Regions from separate parts of the Homo sapiens genome. Here region 2 is linked to region 1. The links come from fine-mapping of genetic effects on gene expression. A gene starts in region 1. The other region holds a variant in brackets. All regions are shown on one strand. Distances are between the middles of the regions. Region 1 holds the start of EXD3 (exonuclease 3'-5' domain containing 3). Region 2 overlaps EXD3 (exonuclease 3'-5' domain containing 3).

Region 1 (8,319 bases):
ATTCTGTACGTGAGATGTATAAGAAAAGCAGAGTTTGTTTTTCTTTTGAACAACATTTCGTGTAGTAATAAGAGATTGTAAAATATTTTTATCTTCTGAGTAAACAGAAAAAAAAAAAGGGGAAAGAGGGAGAGACATTCTGTTTGCCTCACGCTGTCTTTAGTAGGTCTATTGATTGCTTGGGAAACTAAGTCTCCTCTCTGTCATAGTAAAGGTTTTTGGTTTGGGAAATCTCTGAATTACCAATTTGATTAAATGAATGGCTTATTTTACAGTGACCTGTGGTCCTATTTTGAGATTGTTTTAAGCCTCTGATATTTGACTTCCCAAAACCAAATTTCAAGTCCTAACATTAAGGGTTTTTTTCACCTGAACTAACTTGGATATAACAAATAGGAACCCCGAGAAGTCCAAGGGAGATGTACGAGGCTTATGTGGTATGTTAAAATCATACAGGAAGCATTGTCAAATGTGGAATGCTGTTGGAGTTATATTGGTATAAATGTATTATTAACATATGTTCCAAAATTGTATGAGATTCCTAAAAATTCTGACATGTCTTGGTATATGTTATCAGTCGTGATTACGATTATATGTTAAACTGTTTTAACCTCAGAAGTAACCAAATTCCCTGCCAATCGCGTCTTCACCCATGGCTACTCTAAGTCTTTTGTCATCTGCAGAAAATTACTGTTTTACTTTGATTCTTCTCAAAATGCAGTTTAAGGCCGGGCACGGTGGCTCATGCCTGTAATCCCAACACTTCGGGAGGCTGAGGCGGGTGGATCACTTGAGGTCAGGAGTTCGAAACCAGCCAGGCCAATGTGGTAAAACCCCGTTTCTACTAAAAATACAAAATTAGCTGGGCATGGTGGCTCATGCCTGTAATCCCAGTTACTTGGGAGGCTGAGACAGGAGAATCGCTTGAACCTGGGAGGCGGAGGTTGCAGTGAGCCAAGATCGCACCACTACACTCCAGCCTGGGCAACAGAGCGAGACTCCATCTCAAAATAAATAAATAAATAAAATAAAATAAGGTACAGTCCAAAATTTGCATTTTCTTCAAGGAAATTCATGGAAAGGACATTGACAAGTATACAGACTTCCGATAACCTGGGAGATCACACCAGTAGACCAGATAAAAACTTCCAGGACTCTTATTTAAAAGCTGATGCATTCATGAGGATTGTTAACCCAACATCATACAGAAAAAAGCGGCCGGGCGCGGTGGCTCATGCCTGTAATCCCAGCACTTTGGGAGGCCAAGGCGGGCGGATCACGAGGTCAGGAGATCGAGACCATCCTGGCTAATACGGTGAAACCCCATCTCTACTAAAAATACAAAAAAATTAGCCGGGCATGGTGGCAGGTGCCTGTAGTCCCAGCTACTCGGGAGGCTGAGGCTGGTGAATGGCGTGAACCCGGGAGGCGGAGCTGGCAGTGAGCCGAGATTGTACCACTGCACTCCAGCCTGGGCGACAGAGGGAGACTCCGCCTAAAAAAAAAACAAAAAAAACCCCAGCAAATTACATAGAACTGAACTGATAGAGGCCTGAAATGCTTTTTATGATTTTTTGTTGTTATCGAAACCTTGCTGACTCTTTTTATATTTTGTTTTCCAGAGTCAGAAAACCTTTTTCTTTTTGAGCTATTTATAGCTATAGCAATTGAGTGACATATACTTTTGTGAGCAAAACTGAAATATTTGTCTTTTTCTCTACCTGATTTCTCAAAAATCTGGAAGCGATTCATGAGTATTCTTATTTTATGGCAATGTAGTTCTTTGCATGAGTTCAGTAAGAATCTGTTGTCCTTGTAACAGGACACAATTGGAGACCCTGGTTATTCTACCAAGGCTTGGACTGGGATGACGTATTTTTGGATATGACGAGACTGCTTTGAGGAATCGAGGTTCGCTTTATAGAGCCAATAAAAAGCCCCTTGGGATGACTGGACTGGTGCCCTGTTTACATAGTTCCCTTAAAAGGTTCTTGGCCTTGAGGTAAGGAAAGAATGTCACTTTCCGACAGATCCAGGAACTTCAAGATAGTTTGGGACCTGGAGGACAGACATTCACCCCCCCCCCCAAATTCATACAGGTATTATACATACACTGTGATGGGGAGCCACTGGCTTGGCTTCCTAGACATGGGAAGTGTTTGTTTTGTTTAGAGACAGGGTCTCGCTCTGTCACCCAGGCTGGAGTGCAGTGGTGCGATCATAGCTCACTGCAGCCTCAATCTCCTGGACTCAAGCGATCCTCCCATTTCAGCCTCCTGAGTAGCTGGGACTACAGGTGAGCACCACTATGCCCAGGTAATTTTTAAATTTTTTGTGGAGACAGGGACCTCGCTATGTTGCCCAGGTTGGTCTCAAACTCCTGGGCTCAATGAATCCTCCCACCTTGGCCTCCCAAAGTGCTGGGATTACAGGCATGAGCCACCATGCCCAGCCCTCAAGTGGCTTTTAAAGGTCTATTCTGACCCTCTTGTAGTTCATAAGCATGATGATTGCCTCATGTGTAGGGTCTGTCTCCTTCAAACGCTGTTATGACGCCAGCACATTACCTGTCTGATGTGGGGAAAAAAAGTCTGAAATTCCTTATGGCAAAGTTCCAGCCAGTTTAGAAAGGAGCCTATATGGCCAATCACCACTGTTGTACTTTAGGCAAATAATCAGGCCAAATATAATCCTAAAATTTATTTTACAAGTAAATTGGTCTTACCAAGATTTATCTTTGGTAGAAATGGGGAAGTAGAGAAAAATTATGTTTCAGAGAAAAACTACAGCATACCTGTTACTGGATTCTAGCCCTGATCATTGTATTTTTTATTTTCCTACAATCTGGACTAAATCCTGAACAATCTTCTGGCTACAAGTCTCAAAGAAGAACCTGGCTGGGCAGAGGTTCACACCTATAACCCCAGCACTTTGGGAGGCCCAGATGAGAGGATCACTTGGGCTCAGGAGTTCGAGACTAGCCTGGGCAAGGTGTCAAGACCTAGTCTCTACCAAAAAAATTTAAAATTAGCCGGTCCTGGTGGCAAACACCTGTATTCCCAGGTACTCAGGAGGCTAAGACAAGAGGATCATTTAAGCCCAAGAGTTCAAGGCTGCGATGAGTGGGAATCGTGCCTCTGCACTCCAGCATGGGTGACAGAGCAAGACCCCATTTCTAAGTAAACAAATAAATAAAAAGAAAGAAGAACATGGATTTTAGTTTCTTCATGTTTTTAGTTGTCTCCCTAATGGAACAGGTTTGTTTTTTTCATCCTGGCATACAAATTGGTTATAGTCCTATGTGTTACTTCTGAGAAAATTAAAATTAATGGTGTTTCTAAAAACTAGAGATGATTCAACAGGTGACAGCAGTTGTATAAATTAATGACTTCACTGAGACCTCATGTTTGCCACCCTGTAATGCCATTCCAATTCAGTTTGTGGTGTTCTTAAAAAAAAAAAAAAAAAAAAAACTCCCTGAAATGTCTCCTCCTTCCCTGCTTGGCATGGGACAGGACTATGTGGGAATGAGCCTTCCCAGCAAGAGGGGACACTCTGACCCTCAGATTTTGATAATCAATGCTTTCAAGAAGAAAGATTTTGATCAAAAGGGGGGCAAATGAGAAAGAAAAAAATCATTTATCTGAGGAATGTAAAGCCCTTTTAAACTGTGGGCCCAGAAAGCTTGATGTTAAGTGCCAGAAAGCATTTCAAATGAAACCGCAGCCCCTCACTACCCCTCGAGCCAAGTAACTATCCACTGATGACACCAAGCCGTGGTCAATCGCGAACCAATGCCATTTCTACAAGCCAGTGAGCTCCTGGGCAACGTTCGAAACCACCTGCTCTCCGATGGGCTCTGTTTTCTTTAAAAACCTGAGCCTCTGTTTTGTTCTCCGTTGCACCTGGTGACCCAGGCCGCCCTCGACCTCTGTGCCTGAATAAACCCACCGGGCACCACATTCTGACCCTTTTAATTATTTTAGGTTGACAACTAATACAGGACTCAGCGCCGGTGGACAGGAAGCCAGGGCCCCTGCAGGGAGGCGCCCGTCCCTTCTCCCGGGGAGGGCAGGGCGGGCGCGCGCGCGTCCCACCGGGAGCGCCTCCTCCTCGGCGAGGGAGCGAAGGGCCTCCGGGTCCTGTGATGTCCGTGCTCGGAAGGCGCGGAGGAGGGCAGGCCCTGCGGGACAGGGCGGCGGGGTCGCCGGGGTCGGCTCAGCTCCCCGCGGCGTCCGGCTGCTCGGCGGCCTCCGGAGCGGGGCCCTGCGGGAGAACGCACCTTCCCCGCCCCATCGGGGCCTCAGTTTCCCCACCCCGGGAGAGCCGGCGGCCCGCCCCCGGCTCACTCCCAGCTACGGCCCTCACCTCAGGACGCGCACCCGGCCCGGCCCCGCTCTGCCCCCGGCGCCCAGACCGCCCACCTGGCCCGCGCGGCCCGGGGTCGCTCACCTGCGGGGCCGGGACCGCCCCACACCGTCCACGCCCGGCGCGGAACCTTGGCCCGACCGCAGCCGCTGGCCCGGAGGGCTTTATCCGGCGCACCAAGGCCAGCGCGGGCGGGGCGAGGAAGCCGGGCGCACAAAGCTCCCGGCGGAAGTCCGGCCGGGGCGGGGGCCGAATGGGAGGTGGGCGAGGCCTGAGGGTCTGGAGTGGGCGTAGCCGTTTCTGGCGGGGGCGTGGCCTTACCGGGGAGGGGCGGGCGCCTGCCGCCAGGGGGCGCCGCGGGGCAGCGGGGTTGCACCTGGCGCTTGGCGCCCGCACCTCTGCCCGCCTCGGAGACCCCGCAGCCCCGCGCCGCCGCCTGGCCCCGGCCCCGGCCCCTCCGCGGGATCCTGGCCCCTCCTCGAGCGCCGCCACCGGCCGCCATGGCCTCTCTGGGGGACCTGGTGCGCGCCTGGCACCTGGGCGCGCAGGCTGTGGATCGTGGGGACTGGGCCCGCGCCTTGCACCTCTTCTCGGGCGTCCCGGCGCCGCCCGCCAGGCTGTGCTTCAACGCGGGCTGCGTGCACCTGCTGGCCGGGGACCCCGAGGCCGCGCTGCGGGTGAGCGGGGCGTGGGGAGGCCGGTGCGGGCGACGCCTCCGCCTCGAGCCCCTGGGGAGGGCCCAGCGCCCCTCCCCGACCGTCACGGGGTCGCCCTGCCGCCCCCGACCCAGCGAACGCCCCGGCAGGTGGGAGCCGAGCAGGGGGGCCGCACCTGAGCTAAGCGAGGCCGCGCTGGGGGGCGCGGCGGTCACCGGGAGAGGCCGGGGCCCGAGGGTGACTCACACCGGGAAGGGGGAAGCTGCTGGGCTGGGTCAGGCCCGAGGGACCGCCCTGCCCTAAGGGGAAAGCGTTGCGCCTGTGGTCATGGCCGGGAGACCGGGTCAGTCTCCTCCTCAGAGCCCTCAGCCCTCCCCCAGCCCACTCCCCGAAACAGCCAGGAGTCCAGGGTGCCAGGGTGCAGCGGCCGAGGCCCTGCACGGAGCCCGGTGCCCTTCTCGTGCCCCCTCGCGTTCCGGGGCCGCCTGTTCCTGCGCATCCCAAACGCCAGCGCTGCCCACCCCCGCTCAGTCCCAAGCACCCCGCAGAAGCAGGCAGGTGCCCACGGTTACTGAAGGCTCGGTGACAGCAGTGATTTAAAGGAGAGGGAACTGCGCGCTGTGGGAGGGTCTCCACGCCCCTGACTGGCAAAATATCCCCCTTGGAGGAGACTGGGCAAAGCGCATGAGACCCCCCTCTCTTGTGTCTTAAAGCTGCGTACAAATTTACAATCACCTCCATAATGATTTCATTTTTTTGTTTGTTTCAAAGATGGAGTCTCGTTCTGTCACCCAGGCTGAATGGAGTGCCGTGGCCCAATCTTGGCTCACTGCAACCTCTGCCTCCCGGGTTCAAGCAATTCTCCTGCCTCAGCCTCCCTAGTTGCTGGGAGTACAGGCGCCCACTACCACGCCTGGCTAATTTAGTATTTTTAGTAGAAACGGGTTTCACCATGTTGGTCAGGCTGGTCTTGAACTCCTGACCTCAGGTGATCCACCCTCCTCGGCCACCCATAGTGGTGGGATTACACATGTGAGCCACCTTGTCCGGCCCACAATGATTTCATTTTAAAATGTTATCCAAGAAAGGGAATGTAATCTTTAGACACCAGGTGGTTCAGCAACAAATCCTATGTCCGGGGCTAACCCAGTCACTTGTGCTCTTGTGCCTGGTTTCACTACAGAGAGGGGACGCAGTGAAAGTCATACGACTAACCCACAGCATATGCATGTTAGGAATATGGGAACTTAGGAAAGCAGATGGAACAGCTATGATTCATAAAGCCGATCACGTGAGGGGCAGCCCAGGGTGCAGAGGGTGTCGCTGGAACTGCTGTCTCTTGTTAGGAGCCTTGCGTGACGTTTGGGGCAGACAGGTGGGTTCTGCTGGCCCTGAGCCGCCACCCCACATCAGGGCTGCGTGCCTGTGCTCAGCCGCCACACTTCACACCTGTGTGAACTTGGTTCAACGACAAGCCCCCACTCAGCCAGATTTGTGAAAGAGACCGTAGCACCCTTCCTGTCACACACATTTAACTGATGGCCACGGTCCCTGTTCAGAACCTTCTGTGTCCTCCTGAGTCTGGTTTAAGGAAGAGCTGTGCTTTACACACAGATAAACACATGAAGACGTGTGTTGTTCTTTCTGATTCTAATAGATTTCTAGGGTGTCATTTTGCATGAACTATCAAAAAAGGATTTTTATTTTATTTATTTTTTGAGACGGAATCTCGCTCTGTCTTGCAGGCTGGAGTGCAGTGGTGCGATCTTGGCTCACTGCAACCTCTACCTCCCGGGTTCAAGCGATTCTCCTGCCTCAACCTCCCGAGTAGCTGGGACTACAGGCGCGTGCCGCCATGCCCAGCTAATTTTTGTATTTTTAGTAGAGATGGGGTTTCACCATGTTGGCCAGGCTGGTCTCAAACTCCTGACCTCAGGTGATCCGCCCACCTCAGCTTCCCAACATGCTAGGATTACAGGCGTGAGCTAACATGCCCGGCCTGTAATGCAGTTCTTTAGCTGCTGACTCTGGGATCTGGACTGCGTTATCTCGTCTCCAGTATGTGACAGCCAAGGTTGCCTGAGGTCAGGAGTTTGAGAATGTCTTGAACCCAGAGGCGGAGGCAGCAGTGAGCCAAGATCGAGCCACTGCACTCCAGCCTGGGTGACAGAGCGAGACCCCGTCTCAAAAAAAAAAAAAAGGATTTTTAAAAGACAAAAATCTTGCATAACCCCACTCCCCAGAGGTAACTATTATTAACATACTGGAACACTTTTTTCTGGCCTCTGTCCTTGTGCTCATGGTAAACACATTGGTTTTAGCAGCACCTCAGTGGGCTCTGCGCCTTGGACGGGTTGGGGTTGGGTGGGCTGTGGCAACCTGAGTGGCGACAGCCCTGCCCAGGCAGGGGCTCCGAAGGTTCCTGGACAGGAGCAGGAGGGGCTGTGGGGGGTCCCCAGGGGCTGACGGAATTCCGTGGCCCTGTCACCCATCACGCTGTATCTGTGATGCTGCGTGACCAGGTTACAGACCTTGGCATCCCGTGGGCATTTTTGTCCCCAGGCATTTGACCAAGCCGTGACCAAGGACACCTGCATGGCGGTTGGCTTCTTCCAGCGAGGAGTGGCCAACTTCCAGCTGGCAAGGTGAGTACAGGGGTGCCTTGTTCCTTCTCTGACGGCCCTTTGTCTCCCTGCAGAGTCCACTCCTGCACCTCCTCCTCCTCCCTCTCCATCCACTCCCTCCTCTTGCCCACCCCCTCCTCCATGGTTCCTGGCTCCAGGGAAACCTGAGACTGTGGCCCTCGCCTCTGCTGAGCGCCACCCTTGGACACAGGTCGTGGGGTCCTCACTGCTTACCTGGGCTCTCTGCACCATGTCCCTTCCTAAAGGAGGAATGAGGGAAAGGAGACCATCGGGACTGCAGACCAGGCCATGCCTCGGCCTCTCTGCTAGACACTCACAGGCCCCATCCCAGGAGGGCAGGCTCTGTGGGGAAGTGGATCACAGTCCCGAGAGCCTCGCAATCCTGAAATATCAAAACCCCTCAAATCTAAAATCCCAAAAAATATAATTCTAGAAAAAATAAAATTCTGTAAAAGATATTTATTTACTTTTTAAAAATTGTTTTGAGAAGGAGCCTTGCTCTGTCATCCAGGCTGGAGTGCAATTGTGCGATCTCGGCTCACTGCAACCTCCGCCTCCTGGGTTCAAGCGATTCTCCTGCCTTAGCCTCCCGGGTAGCTGGGATTACAGGCATGTGCCACCACGCCTGGCTAATTTTTGTATTTTTAGTA
Region 2 (8,319 bases), 36 kb before region 1:
ACCACACACGCAGGTGCCAAAGAGCGAGGAAGACTGAGCGTCACAGACGAAGGTCCGACAAGAGAGCCTGGAAATGGAACGGCAGAGGGAAATCTCAAAAGCAAGGACAGAGATTCACAAGCTGGAGGCCCAAGAAGCCACCGAGCTGATGGACAAACGAAAGCTGGCAGAGGTGGGTGCAGGAGAGAGGCAGACACAGGAGCAGGCAGCGCCAGGGCTGGGGTCAGAGGGCATCCCCCGGGCCTGCAGGGGTGACCTCAGGCCAGTGGATGTGGCACTCAGAGGAGCTGGGCTGGGGTTGGAGGGCGTCCCCCGGACCTGCAGGAGCGACCTCGGGCCAGAGGACGCGGCACTCAGGACTTGGCAGCTTCCTGTGCACAGGCCATTGCCACTAAGGAGCCGGAATCCGCGTCTGCCCCCACAGGGGGCCGGCCCTCCCTCTGTAGCCTCTCCCCTGGCCTCTCCCGCCCAGCCTCCTGCCCTGCTCAAGTCCCACCCCTTCCTAAGGCCTCCCTGTCCTGGACACCTGCCCCAGTGGCCACCCGGGCCTGGGTGCTCTGGCGGTGGCAGGACGGGGCCTCAGGCCTGGCAGTGCTGGCGACAGCTGTGTCCCTGCAGGTGAGTGGCCCCTGCGCCTCCCAGAGGTGACCTCAGAGGGGCTGCTGGGGCCAGGCAGTGCCTTTACCACCCTGGGGACTTGAGGAGGACCGCCCCCTGCCCCACACAGGCCACCCTGGAGGCGGTCTGGGGCAGCAGCTGTGCAGGACCCTGTGGCCGTGGGGGGCTGTGCAGCTTCCTGACCAGGGAGGCCTCCTGTTAGGCCAGTCTCTGCCCAACAGTCAGTTCTGCTGGCTGTGACTTGGCACGTGGTGGCTGCCACGTCCACTCACCTGCTTCCGCTCCCGCGTGGACCACAGGGTCTGCAGGGCCTGCAGGAGCAGGAGGGGGTCCCGGCCTGTGGAGATAAGATAACAGCCGTGGGAGGGAGAGGCAGGTGCAGGGGCTATCGCACAGCCCGCCGGGAAGTCCCTCCCACTGACCCGCAATGCCTGGGGCTCCTCTGGACCCGGGGGGCCGGGAACCCTCCCCCACCTCTGTCTGGCACACACACAACACACCTGCCAGCTGCGGCAGCACCCACCCTGTTCCTTCCCTGTGGCCCGTGGCCGCCCATCCAGCTGAGTCCGCCCAGCAGCACTTCAACCACGCTCAGCCCTGGGAGCTGGGCCTCATCTTTCAGCTGCAGGTGCAGAGCAGCCCTCGTGGGCCTGAGCCTCTACCTGCTCCGCCTGGCGCCCTCGGCAACCTCATCAGCATCTTCTCACCCAAACCCTGCACCGCAGTCCTGGCACCACGAGGACCCCAAGCCCCTGCCCTCTTTAGGTTTCGGTCCCCGGCCCTCCCGCGCCGCCCCCTCCCTCCAGCCCCGCCTGGGAGGCCCCCGACCTCACTGCAGCAAAAGTGCCAACCAAAGACGCTGCCCCACACGGACAGGGCCACCAGAGCGAGACCCGAGGGAGGTTTCCAGACAGAACCCAGGGGCTGCGTGGCTTGGCTTGGAGGCCGGTGGTGCAGGGGAGTGGAGACCCACTCAGGCCTGGTCATGTGGTAGGGTCAGGGTCGGAGGCCAGGGAGGGGCAGGTGCCAGCAGGGACTCCACAGGGGAGGCCTGAGGACAGGAGCCTGGGTGGATTCCGCAGTGAACTCCCCCTGGACCTGGGGGGCTGTGGAAGCTGCTGGGCCCCCCTGCAGGGCAGGACGGGAACAGGGAAGGCCCCGTGTTGCTGCGAGGGAGGCTGAGGACTCACATGAGATCAGATCAGACCTCAGCAGCTGGATTCTGCCACACACGCCAGAGAAGCGTGTGTGACGGGGGTCACCCCAGAGAGCCAGGCTGACTTAACAGGAGAGTCCAAGGTTATGATTCAGCCCAGGACCGGAACGGAGGAGAGAACCACGTGGCCCTTTCGGTAGACACAGAGCAAGTGTTCTAAAATTCAGTTCAGCTCACAATTTAAGAAATAACTCACCTGGGACGGGCAGGGAGCGCCCTGAACTGGGTAAAAGCCATGGGCGAGCGTGAGACGTGGTGCTCAGGGCAGCACGTAAGGATGCCACAGCCCGGCCTGGAGCCGTCCCAAGCAGGTGGCATCCAATGCAGAAGGAAAACAGAAACATCAGGACCGGCCGACAATGTGATTGATTACACAGAAAGCCACGAAGGATCAAAACTACGCCGTTAGAATTAACCAATGGGTTCGGCATCAATGCTCAGCACAAGCCAAAATGAGAAAATCAGCAATAAACAGAAATGGCCATTTCAAAAATCACTTACAACAGCATCAGCAATGTCAGATTCCCTGGGAGAAATGTAACAAAAGCAGCTCATGCAAAACAAAACCCAGCCGGCTGTCATCTCAGCACTTTGGGAGGCCGAGGCAGGTGGATCATTTGAGGTCAGGAGTTCGAGACCAGCCTGGCCAACGTGGTGAGACACTATCTCTACTAAAACTACAAAAGCTAGCTGGGCATGGTGGCGGGTGCCTGTAGTCCCAGCTACTCGGGAGGCTGAGGCAGGAGAACAGCATGAACCCGGGAGGCGGAGGTCGCAGTGAGCCGAGATCGGGCCACTGCACTCCAGCCTGGGCAACAGAGCGAGACTCCGTCTCAGACAAAAACCAAAAAACCATAAAACACCGTGGGGCGCCCAGGCTCCACCATGGCGTCTCTGCAGCCACCTGGGCCTGGGTGGCACAGGCCAGTGTTCCCGTCTGCGCTCAGAACCGTCCCACCATCGTGCACAGTGTGCTGCATACAGAGGCTGAGAACACTCAAATGTCCACTGTAGGAGGACGGAGCAAGTGCATCAGCCCCGGGACGATGCCCAGGTGGGGAGGACGTACCCCACCACGTGGCCATGGCAGGCAGTGTGACTGGCCCCGCATTCTGGGTGCTGCATGCTGGGCATGGCTGGCGATGGGGCCAGGGTGGGCTGGGCGGGGCGTGCTGTGGTGTGTTCACGATCATGTGCCGAGCCGCATCATGTGCTCTGCGTTCCTTCCTACACATGGGTTGCACTTCACAATAAACAAAAGAGACTTTTATTTTGTTATTTAAGTTAATATTTTATTTAGAGACGGAGTCTCACTGTCACCCAGGCTGGAGTGCAGTGCTGTGATCTCGGCTCACTGCAACCTCCACCTCTCAGGTTCGTGATTCTCGTGCCTCAGCCTCCGGAGTAGCTGGGAGTACAGGCGCTCACCGCTACGCCTGGCTAATTTTTGTATTTTTAGTAGAGACGGGTTTTCACCATGTTGGCCAGGCTGGTCTTGAACTCCTGAGCTCAATTGGTCCGTCCACCTCGGCCTCCCAAAGTGCTGGGATGACAGGCGTGAGCCACCGCGCCCAGCCCAGATTTTCTTTTAAAGCAGAGTTTCAGATGCGTGAGATGAGAAGGTTCTGCAGGTGGACGGTGGTGGCAGCTGTGCAGCCACATGAGTGCCCTTAATGCCACTGAGTGTACACAGGAAAGTGGTTAAAATGGTAAATTTCATGTTATGTATATTTCACATATTTTTAAAAGCAGGGTGAAGCTGGGCAAGGTGGCTTACACTTGTAATCCCAGCACTTTGGGAGGCTGAGGTGGGTGGGTCGCTTGAGCCCTGGAGTTTGAGACCAGCCTGGGCAAGACAGCAAGACCCCATCTCTACCAAAATAAATAAAATTAGCTGGGCATGGTGGCGCTCCTGAGGTCCCAGCCACTTGGGAGGCTGGGGTGGGAGCATGGCTGGAGCCTGGGAGGTTGAGGCTGCAGTGAGCCCTGATTGTGCCACTGCCCTCCAGCCTGGGGGACAGAGTGAGAACCTGTCAATCAATCCATCCATCAATAAGCAGGGTGTCCTTATTATTCTTTTTAAGTTCTCCAAATCGAGATCCACCTTTCCAGGTGGGAAGTTGGTGATGCCGGCCCTCCTACTCCCCAGTCAGTGTTGCTGGTCTTTGCCCTGCTCAGGTCCTGCTGGTTCTGCCCTCCAGGTGGGCAGGGTCTGCCCCCTCCCACCGACCTGGGCCACTCCAGATTCCCAGGGGACTCCCTGCCTTGACGCTGTGCCCTCAGACAACACCCAGCCGCGCAACACGGCACAGCCCTAGCATCCTACAGAAATATGGGGCAGGCCAGGCCACTTTATGGACTCCACCGTGGCCCCTCAGCCTTGAGAGTCAAAGCCAGGGCCCACCACATCCTCCCAGCCTCCAACCTCCGTGTACCTGGACCCTGCCCCTTGGGCCTGAGGCTGCTTCTCGAGCACCCAGCAGCCTGCCCGGAAGCCCCCTCAGCACCCCTGCTCCCTGCCTGCCTCCCTCAGCACCCCTGCTCCCTGCCTGGCCCCCTCAGCACACCTGCTCCCTGCCTGCCTCCCTCAGCACCCCTGCTCCCTGCCTGGCCCCCTCAGCACCCCTGCTCCCTGCCTGGCCCCCTCAGCACCCCTGCTCCCTGCCTGCCTCCCTCAGCACCCCTGCTCCCTGCCTGCCTCCCTCAGCACCCCTGCTCCCTGCCTGCCTCCCTCAGCACCCCCGCTCCCTGCCTGGCCCCCTCAGCACCCCTGCTCCCTGCCTGCCTCCCTCAGCACCCCTGCTCCGTGCTTGGCCCCCGGCCCTTGCTTCCTGCCTGGCCCCCGGCCCCTACTCCTTGTCTGCCTCCCTCAGCGCCTCTGTTCCCTGCCTGGCCCTCGGCCCCCGCTCCCTGCCTGGCCCCCGGCCCCTGCCCTTCTGCCCCTGTCGCTTCACTGTGGCCTCAACGCTGAGCCCCAGGGCAGTGACCGCCTGGGTCTCCTTCCAGGCCATGGCCGGTGCACGATGGACACTCCACGGTGCCCGCCCCAGCCATTCCAGGGCCAGCCGTGCACACATGGTGCTCACAGCCCACGCAACTGGGGAGCCCTGGGGAGCCCTGAGTCTCTCGGGCCAGAGCTGGAGGGACCCATGGCAGGTGTGGCGGGACAAGTGTCTGCCGTGCCGGGCTCAGACACGGCCATGCTGACACTCATCCCACACAATTGCTGGCTTCCTGTTCATACAACAGAAGAAAAACAGGATGTCCAGGGGCGGCTTC[T/C]GTCTGAACGAAGAAGACAAGCGAGCTCTGTGAGCCCCAGGGCTCAGCAGTGAGAGGACAGGGTGCCTGGGAGAGCCCTGGGGGACACACCCCACTCAGCACACAGCACCCCACGCACCCCAACTCAGGGATACCACGCAGGGGCACGGGGTCCGAGAAGGGCGGGTGGGGCTTGGAGCTGACACCGAGGGACCTCCCAGACCCGCTCTCCGGCCCCAGAAGCCCCAGCCAGCCCTCCCTGAGGTCGCCTCCTCGTGCAGTAGCTTCTGGGGGCCTTTGGTCCCCAGCGTGGATGTTTGGCCGGAGCTCCGTGGGTGGCCTCTGGCCCCCACCTCCACACCCAGGCCCAAGTTCCCTGAATTCGCCAAGTTCATCAGTGCTGCACCGATGCCTGGGACCTGCAGACAGGCAGGTCTAGGACGCTGAGACAGATGGCCCTGGCCAGGAGGCTGGGCCCTGACCCTGGACCCTGCCCCTTGGAACCATGTGGGTGGGGGCAGAGCGGGGCAGCTGTGTATTAGGAGGACACCTAGAAAAAACTCAAGCTCAAGAATAAAAGTCCCACAGTCCCCCGAATGTGGATTCACATCCAAGAGCTGGGCTGCTTCTCTCTGGGGGGCTGAATCATGGTCCCTGCCCAGCACCAGAGCCTGGTGCCCACACTGGCTTCCCCCCCAGCCACCCTCCCCAAAACGTGCCTGGGAGGGCTCAGGAACTCTGTGGGGTTGGCCTGAGGGTGTCCAGGCAGAGGCGGCCAGGACGGCTCCACCATCTGTCCCCAGGACGGCTCCCCAGCTGACACCCCCGCGCCGGCCGACGGGAGGACGGATGGTTGCAGGGACGCAGGATGGGCAGAACACAGGGACGCCACTTCCTCCAAACGACACCCGGCTAATGGGGCTGCCTTCACCTTGAGACACAGACGCACGCGGGAAACTGTGGGCTGTGGAGTGGGTGGCGCCGAAGGCTCTGTTATTCCCGACACTCTACCATAAAGCGGGGATGAGAAACACAGGGGGCTTTTTATCCACAGGGTTGGGGGCACAGAAGCCCCAGGAACTGAGGCCGACCCCAGCAGCGGGCGCCAGGCAGAGGACACCAGGCAGCGGATGCTGGCAGGGGACACCCGGCCTCCAGGCAGGAAGTCTGTGACGTGGTCTTCACAAAGCCCCCGAGTGGGTCTCCCCGGCAGCTGGCTCTCCTCTTGGGGCCTGGGTCACAAAGCTCACAGCCCGTCTCCAAGGCCGTCCCACACCTGCCAGCAGCATCAGACCCCGCGGCAGTGAGTGTAGAAGAGCCCGGCCGCCCAGACCAGACCCCACGCGCTGTGGTGACCTGCATGTCCACGGGTCCAGGCACCTGCTATCAGCACAGCACCCCGCCTGGGTCAGTCCTCTGACCGCCCACGGACAGCAGAAAGGGCCAGCCCACGGCCTCAGCTCCCCTCAGAGACCCCATGGCACCTCCCGCAGGCGTGTCCTGAGAGGCCACGCCCACCCACCACGCACTGGGGCCTCCGTCCCTCTGCCACGAGTCTGTCTCCTGGTGGCCTTCTGGCGTCCGGGGGCAGCTGAGATGGGGCCACCCCCTCCAGCCCAACCGTCTCTGGTCTCAGATTCCACCCACATCTGCCTGTGCTCAGCTGCAGGCAGGGCGGGGGACGTGATAAGGACAGAGGCGGCAACGAGACCCCAAGCCCGGCGGACAGCGTGTGCCCTCCACCTCGGCTCGCCGCAGAGGACCGCCCGTGTCTGGGGAGTGAGGTGAAGGGGCTCCCGGAGGTCCAGCATCTGGCACGGAGCCCCTTGCTCTATCAACACAGCGGCCCACAACCCCAGCACAGCACCGTCTCTCATCGGTCATGGGTCCCCTCACCCTCAGTCCTACTCACTTGCCTCATCCATGAAGCCGAGGGCCTTGGAGACAGAACCTGACCCAGCCTAAGCCCAAGCTGCCTCTGCTGGGAAAGCGGGATGAGGGGGAGAGCCCACCGTTCGATGCTGTGGACCCCACAAGGAGGCAGAGAGGGAAAGGGCGGTACCAGCTCAGGGGGCATGAGGCGGACGCCACTCAGAGACAGTGAGTACGTCGAGGTGCTGGGACGCTCGGAGCGAGAGGGACAGAGAGGGACAGTGAGACCAGCAAGGAGCTGGGACGCTGGGAGCCAGGTGGATGCATGCAGAGAGGGACAGAGAGATCCCCAAATTTCATTCTGCAACCGCAGGTCAGAAAATCTGCTGAAGAAAAGATCCTACCTACAACAGAAATATTGGAAGATGAAATGCCTATTTTTAAAAAGTAACAGACCCGGCACAGTGGCTCATGCCTGTAATCCCAGCACTTTGGGAGGCCGAGGCGGGCAGATCACCTGAGGTCAGGAGTTCGAGACCAGCCTGGCCAACATGGCGAAACCCCGTCTCTACTAAAAATACAAAAATTACCCAAGCATGGTGGTGGGTGCCTGTAATCCCAGCTACTCAGGAAGCTGAGGCAGGAGAATCACTTGAACCTGGGAGGTGGAGGTTGCAGTGAGCCAAGGTTGCGACATTGCACTCCGGCCTGGGTGACAGAGCGAGACTCTGTCAAAAAAAAAAAAAAAAAAAAAAAAAAAATGGCCGGGCGCGGTGGCTCACACCTGTAATCCCAGCACTTTGGGAGGCTGAGGTGGGCGGATCATGAGGTCAGGAGATCGAGACCATCCTGGCTAACATGGTGAAACCCCATCTCTACTAAAAAAATACAAAAAATTAGCCGGGAGTGGCGGCGGGCACCTGTAGTCCCAGCTACTCGGGAGGCTGAGGCAGGAGAATGGCGTGAACCCGGGAGGCGGAGGTTGTGGTGAGCCGAGATTGTGCCACTGCACTCCAGCCTGGGCGACAGAGCAAGATTCTGTTGCCAAAAAAAAAAAAAAGTAAATAAATAAAAATTACACAAATAAATAAAAACTAAAAAGATAACAGTATGTTCTGGGTGGTTTCACATAAACTAACTCCTTCAATATTCACACAGAAATGAGGCCCGGTATTGGCGTTAGAATCATCATTCAGATGAGAAAACAGGTTAGGCAGCGTGGCCCGGTCACACAGTGAGGAAGATGAGCCCTCTCTGCTGGCAGGTGTGGAAGGGCGTTTTCACGGTTTTATGAGGCCAGCTGTGACTTCCCTCCGGTCTCCCTCATGTCACCCTCATGTCACAGCCCGAGGTTT

What was found. PIP is the estimated chance that this variant, and not a neighbour inherited with it, causes the effect.
Region 2: its variant is fine-mapped to the expression of EXD3 in lung (TOPMed, PIP 0.96).

What each region holds. Positions count from the first base shown.
Region 1 is chr9:137,418,662-137,426,980 of GRCh38, forward strand. It overlaps EXD3 (exonuclease 3'-5' domain containing 3), which reads right to left and starts at 4,501. Exons shown (of 22, transcript NM_017820.5): 1 at 4,453-4,501. NOXA1 (NADPH oxidase activator 1) reads left to right here and starts at 4,732. Exons shown (of 14, transcript NM_001256067.2): 1 at 4,732-5,045; 2 at 7,587-7,669. The coding sequence starts at 4,869. It also overlaps the pseudogene LOC124902354. RefSeq lists silencers at 4,093-4,232, 4,243-4,382, 4,403-4,962.
Region 2 is chr9:137,382,423-137,390,741 of GRCh38, forward strand. It overlaps EXD3 (exonuclease 3'-5' domain containing 3), which reads right to left. Exons shown (of 22, transcript NM_017820.5): 3 at 891-955. Among named protein-coding and RNA genes, the nearest start is that of EXD3, 37 kb to the right of the region's middle. The variant T/C (reference allele first, on the strand shown) is at 5,114.